Linked DNA regions of Homo sapiens: region 2 is linked to region 1. The links come from fine-mapping of genetic effects on gene expression. Tissue or cell type: whole blood. Region 1 holds a variant in brackets; the other region holds the start of a gene. All regions are shown on one strand. Distances are from middle to middle.

Region 1 (6,047 bases):
GATTCTTAATTTGTCTCTGAACACAGTCTTATGATGTCATCCTTGAAAACTGCACTGTGGGTCATAGAGATGTCATGGTCCATCTCTCTTTTTAATGTTTTCATATTCTTTTAAAGAATAGATCAAGGATTATAAAAGATTAAAAGTGAAAATCTCATTTCTACCTCTGTCTCGCATCCTTTCATTGTTCCCCTTCCCTCTCTGTACAGTTTCCCATTTGTTTTTGTGTATCCTTCTGGAGTTCTTCATGCAATTGGAAGCAAATATAGATACAGAGACTTATGTTTCTCATTTTTTTTACACAAAATGGCACAATCTTTTTATTAGGCAAGTCTCTTCCCCTTTGGAGCCTCATTTCCTGATTTCTGAAGAAAGGAGATTGCAGGCCTTGAGCTGTGGCCCACGCCTATAATCCCAGCACTTTAGGAGGCCAAGGCGGGCGGATCACGAGGTCAGGAGATCAAGACCATCCTGGGTAACACGGTGAAACCCCGTCTCTACTAAAAATACAAAAAATTAGCCGGGCATGGTGGCATGTGCCTGTAATCCCAGCTACTCAGGAGGCTGAGGCAGGAGTATCACTTGAACCCAGGAGGCGGAGCTTGCAGTGAGCCGAGATCGCGCCACTGCACTCCAGGCTGGGTGACAGAGGGAGACTCCATTTCGAAAAAAAAAAAAAAGGAGGTTGCACCAACTCTCCACAGTCCCTTCTCTCTGAGATTCTCAGATGCTGGGGATACATCAAGCCCCTGACACTCACTCTGCTTCTCTCAACAATGTTTAGCTTTTTGGAAAGTCACACTTGTATGGCTGGTTTTGTCAGTGACCTCAAATTTAAGCACCCGGGGTGTGGTTTGCAGACATTGGTATTTCATGCTTTAAGAAAATCCAGTACACAAATGTCAACATTTCCAAAGCAAATTAGGGAGTGTCTGTTTGCGTTAAAAATGAACCTTGCAAAAATGATTCATCAAAAGTTTTTTTTCCTGTATTTGCATATATTTTTTCACTAAATAAATAATACCTGGTACAAAATTCAAAAGAGTATACAATGAAAACCTTCCACCTTGATCCCCAGCCACTGAGCTCCCTTCCCCATGGGTCACGTCTTACCAGTTTCTTCTGCATCCTTCCATATTCTTTGCATATGCAAACATAACTGTACATATATATTTTTTTAAATAACACTCTAAACATACAGTTTTGCACCTTATTATCCTTTGCTGAAAAATATACTTTGGAAAGCCTTCCAGATCATCAGGAGAAATAGAAATGCCTCAGTCCTTTTTTTTTTTTTTTTTTGAGGCGGAGTCTTGCTCTGTAGCCTAGTGCAGTGGCGTGATCTTGGCTCACTGCAACCTCCGCCTCCTGGGTCCCAGTTCAAGCAGTTCTCCTGTCTCAGCCTCCCGAGTAGCTGGGACTACAGGCACCTGCCACCACGCCCGGCTAATTTTTTGGATTTTTAGTAGAGACAGGGTTTCACCGTGTTATCTAGGATGGTCTCGATCTCCTGACCTCGTAATCTGCCCGCCTTGGCCTCCCAAAGTGCTGGGATTACAGGCGTGAGCCACCGCGCCTGGCCAATGCTCAGCTAATTTTTGTAGTTTTAGCAGAGACAGGGTTTCACCATGTTGGCCAAGCTGGTCTTGAACTCCTGACCTCGTGATCCGCCTGCCTCGGCCTCCCAAAGTGCTGGGATTACAGGTGTGAGCCACTGAGCCCAGTCCCCTTCTTTTTTTTTTTAAGGGCTTCATAATTTTCCATTGACAGATAGATCAAAATGAATTTTATCTAAATGGGGCTGTTTTTCATAGTGAACTCAACTATTCCATTGACAATCTGATTTAATTCCTGCAGCCTTATTTTCAGTTGCACTCTATTGCAGGAAACAAGATACTCTCAGGGTGCTTCCATCTGTGCACAGTGCACAATGAGCAGGCATCAGTGTCTACAAACAGATGTGCCAACAGAAACTCACAAGTGTTTTCACCTCTGAAACCTTAGGATTGAATCTCAGATTAGTTAAAGATCCTCAGTTTAATCTTCCTAATTTTTAGAGTAACTTTTTCCATTTCCTGATTTTTAGAATGAGCTTCCGTCTCTCTTTCTCTCCTCATTACTGAAAGTGGAACAATCTAATGCTGCTTTTCTGTTTTTCTTTTCGGCTCCAAGCTTTTGAAACCAGCCCCATTCTCCAAGGTTCTTACTTAACTCACTGAAGACTACTAGCAGCTTTTACCCTATGCTGGTCCTCACCTCTGCCCTCAAAACTTCTCCACAGTCACATTCAATATCAGAATAGATATTGAAAGAAAGAATTTTGATCAGAGGCCGGGGATGATGAGATATTGATCTCCCAGCCCTCAGGGCAGCCAAGGGGCTCAGGCAG[C/G]CTTGAGTAGCCTCATCATTCATTTACCTCTGGGGATGTACAAAGGGTATGATTTTTCATGTGTGACCGTGAAAAAAGTTGAGAAGCTCTAATGAGCACCATGAGAGGAAACACTGTCGTTAGTGTTTGGCACATGCTGTGTTCTCAGTTAATATGTGGTTGATTGATTGGCTAGTTGAATGACATAATCAGGAGTTACGTACTCAATAAATAGTAGATATTATGACTATTGTCATGACTATATCTTCTCGCTGTTCTTTGTGCCTCAACCCAAAGGAAGAAGAATACAGGATATCCAACAGATATTTTACTAATTAATTACTATTACTATTATTTGTCTATTTATTTGAGACAGAGTCTCACTCTGTTGCCCAGGCTGGAGTGCAGTGGCACGATGCTGGCTCACTGCAACCACTGTCTCCCACGTTCAAGCGATTCTTCTGCTTCAGCCTCCCGAGTAGCTGGGATTACAGCCGTGTGCCACCACACCTGGCTAATTTTTGTATTTTTAGTAGAGATGGGATTTTACCATGTTGGCCAAGCTTGTCTCGAACTCCTGACCTCAGGTGATCTACCCACCTTGGCCTCCCAAAGTGCTGGGATTACAGGCATGAGCCATCGCTCCTGACCTATTATTATTACTTTTTTAGAGACAAGGTATCACTCTGTCACCCATGCTGGAGAGCAGTGGCACTATCATCACTCACTGCAGCCTCGACCTCCTGAGGATCAAGTAATCTTCCTGCCTTAGCCTCCTGAGTAGCTGGGACTACAGGCACTACCACCGTGCCTGGTTAATTTTTTTTTTAATTTTTTGTAAAGACAGGGTCTCACTATGTTGCCCAAGCTGGTCTCAAATTTTGACCTTAAGCAATCCTCCCACTTCTGCCTCCCAAAGTGCTGGGATTACAGGCATGGGCCACCACACCTGGCCCAGTGGATATTTTATAATTCTAATCCTAGTTGACGTTTTATTTCCACTTACTTAAAATACTCACTTCCCTTAGTTCTGGGACATGGCACTCTCCTGCTTTTCCTCCTACCTTCTGACTCTTCACAGATTCTTCTTCTTCCAAGGGCCTTTAAATGTTGGGGTTTTCCCAAGTTTGGCTCTTCAGCCTCTTCCATCTCCCTGAGCTGAGTCAATATTTCCCAAGACTCAAGAAGACAAACTATTCTGATGAATCCCAAATTGACATTTTCAGCCCATACTCCTCTTCTGAGCTACCAGACCCATGTACCCAGCTGCCTACCTGTCCTCTCTTCATGAATTGACTGAGATGAAACTGACTATCGAAAGGAATGAGAGCTTCAAATAGAAACACTGGAAAAGTATAGGAAGATGACATTTTTCTTATACACCTGGAATTTGTAACCACTGTAATGACTAGTTCAAATCCTTTCTGCCTTCTTCAGTTCTTTGGTTTTGCCAACCCTTCCAACCCATCCACACTCCTGATGCCCCTCCCCAGTTAGCAGATCCTACCATGTCACAGAGAAAGTAGAGGCTGTAGACAGCTCCCTCTTCTGCCACCAAGTCTACAGGCATCTGCATCCACTCTCATTCTTTTCTCCTCCCTTTTAGGCCACACTCCTACCTGGTCTATGGCTTGTGTCACTTCCTCGCTCTTTAGGAGTCTCCATCCTGTCTTTTACCTTCCCTCTGGACAGGCTGCTTCCTCCTGATGTTTGTACGTGTGCAAAGACTCCCTATCGGAAAAGCCTCTTCCTTCGACCTCAAGTCCAGCTTTCACTACTGCCATTCACCACTTCTTTCACAGCCAAGTTTCTGGGAAGAGTTTTCTCCATTTACCATCTCTTATTTCTACACCTTCCATGTGTCTCGACCTCCTGCAATTTTGACTTCTGGCCAGGCACAGTTGCTCACACCTGTAATCCCAGCACTTTGGGAGGCCAAGGGAGGCAGATCACGAGGTCAGGAGTTCGAGACCAGCCTGGCCAACATGGTGAAATCTTGTCTCTACTAAAAGTACAAAAATTAGCTGGGCATGGTGGTGCACACCTGTAATCCCAGCTACTCGGGAGGCTGAGCCAGGTGAATTGCTCGAACCCAGGAGGCGGAGGTTGTAGTGAGCGGAGATTGTACCCCTGCACTCCAGCCTGGGTGACAAAGCAAGACTCCATCTTGGGAAAAAAAAATTTTTTTTGCTTTCTTCCCACAACTTGCTCCAGCTGTACTTGACAACGTCAGCACCAATGTCCTCCATGGTATTTCAATGGACTCTTCTTGGTCTTTATTTTGCTTGGCCTCTCTGCAGCATTTGCCACCATGGACCAGTCCCTTCCTGAAGTTCTCTGTTTACTCATCATCTTCCTCATGACAATGTTTTTAAAATGGTTCTGAGTGGCTCACCAGGTAATTGCCAGCCCAGGGACTGGATTTTCTTTCTACCTTCACAAACATCTAGTTATCTCTAACTCACCCTTCAGGTCTCTGCTCAGGGAGCCCTTCCCTGTCCCCCTGGACTGGTTTGCGTGGTTTCCTGGGCTTTGCCAGAGCAGCAATTATCACAGATTGCAATTAGATGTGCTAGGGTCATTCTATACCCCCAGATTTTCCCCTGGGTTGTATTTAATTTCCAAGGACTTCGCTGATGGCAAGACATAGGGGAGGGAGGCTTTCTGCTCCTGCATATCATCTGTTATACTGGCTGAGCTGAAATGTACTGAACGAGAACAATCTTCACACACACTAGATTAAAGTGATCTGAATGTTCCCCCTCATTCTCACAAATTTTCATTTTTTCCCTGTTTCTTTGTTAATGGACTATTTGCATGCAAATTTCCCTGTGTTTTTCCAGACATTGTCCAAAGTCATAATTGTAAATTATTAAAGCAGCAATCCCCCAGGTGGCCTGATAGTGGCCACACACCCTCCTTGTACAAGATTTAACCTAACAACCACTGAACACGCAAAACAGTTTTCAGGGAATTCCTCTCATCCCCATTCCTAATTCCCTGGTGCAGTTATTGCGGGGGCACAGCACAGGGCCTGGGAGCCACAAGCTTCTGAATTCTCCAGTCACGTTCCCCTCAGTCCGAGGACCTGATCTCATCTGGAGGTAGATTCCTGCAAGCCTCAAATGTTGTCTTTGTGCATGAGTCCTTTCTCTTTCCCACAAGATCATGGCTCAAAAACCAACAAAAGTCTCCTTCCTCTTTGGGTTCATGTTGTCCTAAGCTGAGACAATTTAGTTCACTGGGGGAAAGCCGTGGAGAAAAGAAAATCCTGGGGATGAAACCCATAGTTAATATTCTAAAATAGCATCATGACACAGTGCATGTACTGTGGATATTGAGAATCTAGGGAAAATGGGCTTTGAGACAACAGACAAATCCAGAACTGCCCCATGTTCTTAAGAGGTAGACAAATAGGTATAGCAGGAGGAGAAAGGATCATTTTGCCAGAAATTAGAAACAGGAAGTCTTGGCCAGGCATGGTGGCTTATGCCTGTAATCCCAGCACTTTGGGAGGCTGAAGCGGGCAGATCATGAGGCCAGGAGTTAGACAACAGCCTGGCCAACATGGTGAAAACCCATCTCTACTACAAATACAAAAATTAGCTAGGTGTGGTGGCAGGTGCCTGTAATCCCAACTACTCAGGAGGCTGAGGCAGGAGAATTGCTTGAACCCCAG
Region 2 (5,468 bases), 120 kb before region 1:
GGTTGCAGTGAGCCATGATCCCACCACTGCACTCCAGCCTGAGTGACAGGGCAAGACTCTGTCTCAGAAAACAAAAGAAAACGAACATTTAGCAAATTTAATTATTCGAGAGAGACAGTTCAAAATCTAGGGATTTTTGGTTTGTTTTTATATTTACTACATAAGCTTAGTCGGTAGAAATGAGGATTAGCTTTTTGTATGACAATTTACAATAGCTATTATTTAAAAAATATTTTTATTCTTAAGAGTCAACCTTGACCGGGCGTGGTGGCTTGCGCCTGTAATCCCAGCACTTTGGGATGCCGAGGCGGGTGGATCACGAGGTCAGGAGATCGAGACCATCTTGGCTAACATGGTGAAACCCCATCTCTACTAAAAATACAAAAAATTAGCCGGGCACAGTGGCGGGCGCCTGTAGTCCCAGCTACTCGAGAGGCTGAGGCAGGAGAATGGCGTGAACCTGGGAGGGGGATTAAGTCCAGAAGATCGAGGCTGCAGTGAGTGGTGATCACCCAGCCTGAGCAACAAAGGGAGACACTGTCTCAAAAAAAAAAAAAGAAGAAGGTTTTGGTTTCAGATACAAATAAATATCAGAGACTCGGGGTCTTGAGATACCTACATTAAATTAGAAATAAAATGATAAAAACCAGCAAACACCTATGCTTTCTGTGAATATACATTTCTCATATCCCGTCTCCTTGATGTCTGCCCAAAAAAGGTACCCAGTCTGATATGCTGTTCATTATATGAAATTTTAGCCAAAAGTTGAACCATTAACTATTAAAAGTCATGTTATCACTTATTTATTTTGGATGATGGATAACGGGTGTTTATTATATCTTTCTGTATGCTTTAATTTCCAAAATGAAAGTGTTTAAAAAATAATAATAAGACTCGGTAGTTAGCCTGATTCTCCAAACTTCAGGCCAGATTTTTGTATACCACAAATCTGCAGCCAGTGCAGTGGCTCATGCCTGTAATCCCCAAACTTAGGGAGGCAGAAGCAGGAGGATAGCTTGAGCCTAGGAGTTCAAGACCTGCCTGGGCAACAGAATAAGAACTCCATTCTCCACAAAAAGAAAAAAAAAAAAAAAAAGAAAGACAATATACAAATCTACGGGAAGGAATCTTTCCAGAAAGGAAGAATTTGTTTCAAGAACTGTTTTGCAGGAATATCAGAAGGTTTTTTATTTTTCTTTGACTCAAAGGCTGTAACACTGTACTTTATAAAAATGGAAATAAAGGCATTAGTTTGAACAATCCTCTATGCTGCTACTGTTGTAAAGTTTGGAGCCTATAACTCACTCAAATTGGTTTATAGCCATGTGTTTACTAAATCTTTTTTCATATTCCTTTTCTCCAGGCATACAGGAATTTATATCTCACAGCCTTCTTAGAGTCAGTCAGGTTGAGCCTGGTGACTAGTTCAGGACAGTGAAACGTCAGCAGAAGTGAAAAGGCCACTCACTTCTGGCAGAGGCAAAGGAGAGCCCTTACAGGATTCTCCAATCTAGCTCTTCTGCCAGCCCGGAAGTGCTGGGAGGGCAGAGCCACTGACGCAAGCAGCAGGGAAGCTGAGTCACCATGGGGACGTGAGACTGACTTACAGATGACGAGTGCAGCCTCACAGCCTAGTCCATGTTGAGATAAACACAATACAGTCCTGCATACTTTATAGTCATAAACGAGGGAGAATAGAAATGGAAAATGACCCTCTAGGCCTCTAAGACCAAATTATAATGAAAAAATTTATGTCTTCAGTTTTGAAAATTAAATTTTTTGACCCTGATAAAACAAATTTGCTATACAAGTATCCGTTAACCGTGTGAAACCTACTGAGTCAAACTATTTTCTTACATTCCTTCCACTTCAACACCAATTCTAATCCAATTCCAAATTAGTTTTCAGAGAGTCTCTTGTAAGGAAAAGGAGAATCGACTTCGAATTTTAAAATTTGTGCTATTATTAGTTTATAGAGCTTTCAACAATTTACAAATAGTTTGCATAATCAGTATATTTAATTAGTATATATAGACATATATATATATATTTGAGAGGGAACTTCACTGCAACCTCCCAGTTGCCTCCTGGGTTCAAGTGATTCTCCTGCCTCAGCCTCCCAAACAGCTAGGGTTATAGGCGCCCACCACCACGCCCGGCTAATTTTTGTATTTTTAGCAGAGACAGGGTTTCATCATGTTGGCCAGGCTGGTCTGGAATGCCCAACCTCAGGTGATCTGCCCGCCTCGGCCTCCCAAAGTGCAAGGATTACAGGCGTGAGCCACCAAGCCCGGCCTAGTGTAATTTTTAAAAGTACAAAAGCCACTAGAAACCGTGACAATAAGAACTTCCTTTTGGGTTTTCCAGCATTTGGTTCATAGGACATGGACCATATATAGATGTTTTTTGAATGCTGAAATCTTTTACTCATAACACAGTTTTCCCAGTAACTTGCTTCCGGTTGATTTAAAATTTGTAATACACCTTTGTAATAGCAGGTACCTTCATGAAACTCAGTATTTGAGAAAAATGTGGAGTTTTTCCCCCTTTCTTTTGGCCAGAATGTATATCCAGGGTAGTGACTTTCGAGCAAATGCGTTTAAGCAACTCCAGTATTCTTACTACGCTACCTCCAACCTCGCTCCACGCATGGGGAGATCAGGGTTCCACATTTTCGGGTAAGCATTAGCCGTCCTGGCGCTGCACGAGCGTATTCTACAATTCCGAAAACTACTAACTTTTCCGTCTGCAACCTTTAATAATTGAGAGGGTATGCGCAACTCAGAAAAGTGCGCCCGCTGAGGTTGGGTGCAGAGTGGACTGGAGGAAAGGCGACACCCATTTACGGTGCGGCCCCGGACGGGGTCCCCAGACACGGCCTTCCCGGCGTGCCACGCGCGGAGGGGACTCTTAACGTGAAGCGCTGGGTGACTCAGCCGCGTGGCCGCGCGGTCCGGGGCGGGGGGCGCGCGCCGCTGCGGCACAGCCGGTCCCGGCTGCGGCTTCTGGCTGCGCGGCCTGCGCGCGCCTCCCGGGCGGATTCCAGCCCCGAGCGGGACAGCGCGGCGGGGAGCGACGAGTAAGTGGCGGCGCGGTACGGTTTCGGGCGCGAAGACCGGGCAGGGAGAGTGTGGCGGCGGGCGTGGCCCGAGTCTTCCCTTTGTGGCCGAGGGGGCGTCTCCTCCGGACGCGGCGGCGGTTCGGACCCCCGAGTCGAAAGGCCGCGGGGCTGAGCTGGGCGCGAGGAACCTGTGGGCAGCGGCTTGATGGGCTCCTGTTTCCGCGCGGAGGGCAGAGTCTGGTGATCCTGGGGAGGGAGGCGACGCTGCGCCCAGGTGGTGGGCACAGCTGAAGTGTAACTTGACTGCTTGACTGCTTTTTGCAGGCCTCGGGTGGTTCATCCCGCCGGAGAGGAATGGCGAGAACCTGGAGTGTTGACTGGCAAAACATTTGCAGACGCGGTTTTTCTGGCAATTAATTGGCTCCATTAAAAATTAGGTAGTTGGTGGGGACTTCCTCCTGAACTCTGGAGCCGAGCGCATTTTGCTCGGTCTTTTCAGCCCTGTTTCCGCGTCTTCCTTCCCTGCCACCCGCAAATTGCCAGCTTTCATCCGTGGCTCTGAGTGCAAAAGAGCTGGGGAAAGCCTTAACCAGCAATTTTCTTTTAAATAAAACTTTGCTTTTTATAGCAGTGTCTTCAGGTTTAGAAGCCCAGTTCTGCACTATGAGAAAACTCTTCTATTTTGGAGTTTGTGATTCTTTCTGAAAATTCCTCAGTTGAAGAGATTTATTTTTAAATAAGAATCTAGTGAACAAACTAACATGATAAACAAGGCTGTGAAGGAACTGTTTAACCAGCTTATGAAAATATGTCCCAGAGTCCTTAGTTTTGTTCCTGTTCGCTGTGCGAGAAGTTGAGGTAGTTTTTTAATGGTCTTCAAAACAAAGTGTTGTAGTAGTGTCTGTCGGATGTGATGAATCCAGAGTCAGAGGACTTCCGCTCAAGGCCCCCACCTGAAACCCCAATTCCTAGGCCATAGTTCTGAAACAGAAGATTGTTCCTTAGTAATAAGGTTGCAGTACCCTAGCACCTCTTCCATAAATTTGATTCTAGAGATTTGTGATGGGTCCCTGAGTCTGGGATTTAAGCAAGCACCTGCACTCTTGGTCTGTTACTGATGATCCAGGGACCGACCACACGTTGACAGACACCACCTTTAGGCTGGGCTGGGAATTTTAAAAACTGCCCAACAGCCTTAACCCTTTGTCGATGTTTTCCTCCCCTGCCCTAAACCAGTCGTAGGACAAGAAGCCCTGACTCTCCAGAAGCCAATATGAGAAAAGATAGTGCTTTTTTTGACCCTGACACGGGGTAGGAAATGATTTTCATGCATATTCCGATATTGCTCTGATGGTTTAGAGATAGCCCATTAATCTTTTCCTTCTGAGGGCTGCTTCTAGTATCATCAGAGCTTAATGCCATTAGGCCAAATCTCCTCCGCCCAGCTCACTCAAGTCTCCCCATGGAACCAGGGCAGCCAATGCCATATAATTCCCATGGCCTTGACTGTCATATTATCTGGTATGTAGCAGTACTAGTAGCATTATGAGGGCTTTCAGTTCAGCTGGACGTTAATTTAGTCATCAAATACCTGCGTAATGCCTATTTTCCTCAAAGCACTGTAGTAGGCTGTTTTATCAACAGCATTGCAATATAGACACATATTTCTGGCACAGAGTTGCATTCCTCCTTTGAGGCAGAAATGAGGGCTGGATAAACTCCACTGCTGCCAAAAGGTTCTCTTTATTCATCCACAATTTGTTCCTTCCTGTTATGCCAGAAATACACGTACTATTCCAATAATCTCGTTTTCCTTAAGAAGTTAAGAAATACATTGTATTAGGCCTAACTGTAGTAGTTAGGTCAGTCTTAAATTCTGTAACAGAAGCCGGGCGTGGTGGCTCATGCCTGTAATCCCAGCAATTTGGGAAGCCGAGGCAGATGGATCACCTGAGGTCAGGAGTTTCAGACCAGCCTGGCCAACCTGGTGAAACCCTGTCTCTACTAAAAATACAAAAATAAGCCAGGCATGGTGGTGGGCACCTGTAATCCCAGCTACACGGGAGGCTGAGGCCGGAGAATCACTTGAATCCGGGAGGCAGAGGTTGCAGTGAGCCGAGATCGCGCCATTGTACTCCAGCCTGGGCAACAGAGTGAGACTCCGTCTCAAAAAAAAAAAAAAAAAAAAATCTGTAACAGAGACATCTAGTAACTTTGGTAAGGACAATAATACACGCATTTTTATATTTATTATTCCCCCTTCAAATAGATGTGTAGAGATGAGGTTAGAATTAGGCCATGTGTTTCTGTGACTTTTTTCCTCTCTTTGGTGTCTGATTTATCTTATTGAATCTTTTTCTGTTGATTCATAAAATGTCATGTCTTTCCTTCTGTAGCCCTGAGCTTC

The links. PIP is the estimated chance that this variant, and not a neighbour inherited with it, causes the effect.
Region 2: KCTD20 starts here. The variant in region 1 is fine-mapped to the expression of KCTD20 in whole blood (TOPMed, PIP above 0.99).

What each region holds. Positions count from the first base shown.
Region 1 is chr6:36,557,096-36,563,142 of GRCh38, forward strand. No RefSeq gene overlaps it. Among named protein-coding and RNA genes, the nearest start is that of STK38, 13 kb to the left of the region's middle. The variant C/G (reference allele first, on the strand shown) is at 2,390.
Region 2 is chr6:36,440,033-36,445,500 of GRCh38, forward strand. KCTD20 (potassium channel tetramerization domain containing 20) reads left to right here and starts at 2,968. Exons shown (of 8, transcript NM_173562.5): 1 at 2,968-3,079. PXT1 (peroxisomal testis enriched protein 1) reads right to left here and starts at 2,822. Exons shown (of 5, transcript NM_152990.4): 1 at 2,503-2,822. RefSeq lists enhancers at 1,289-1,836, 3,321-3,420, 4,026-4,085 and silencers at 1,643-1,712, 2,871-3,160.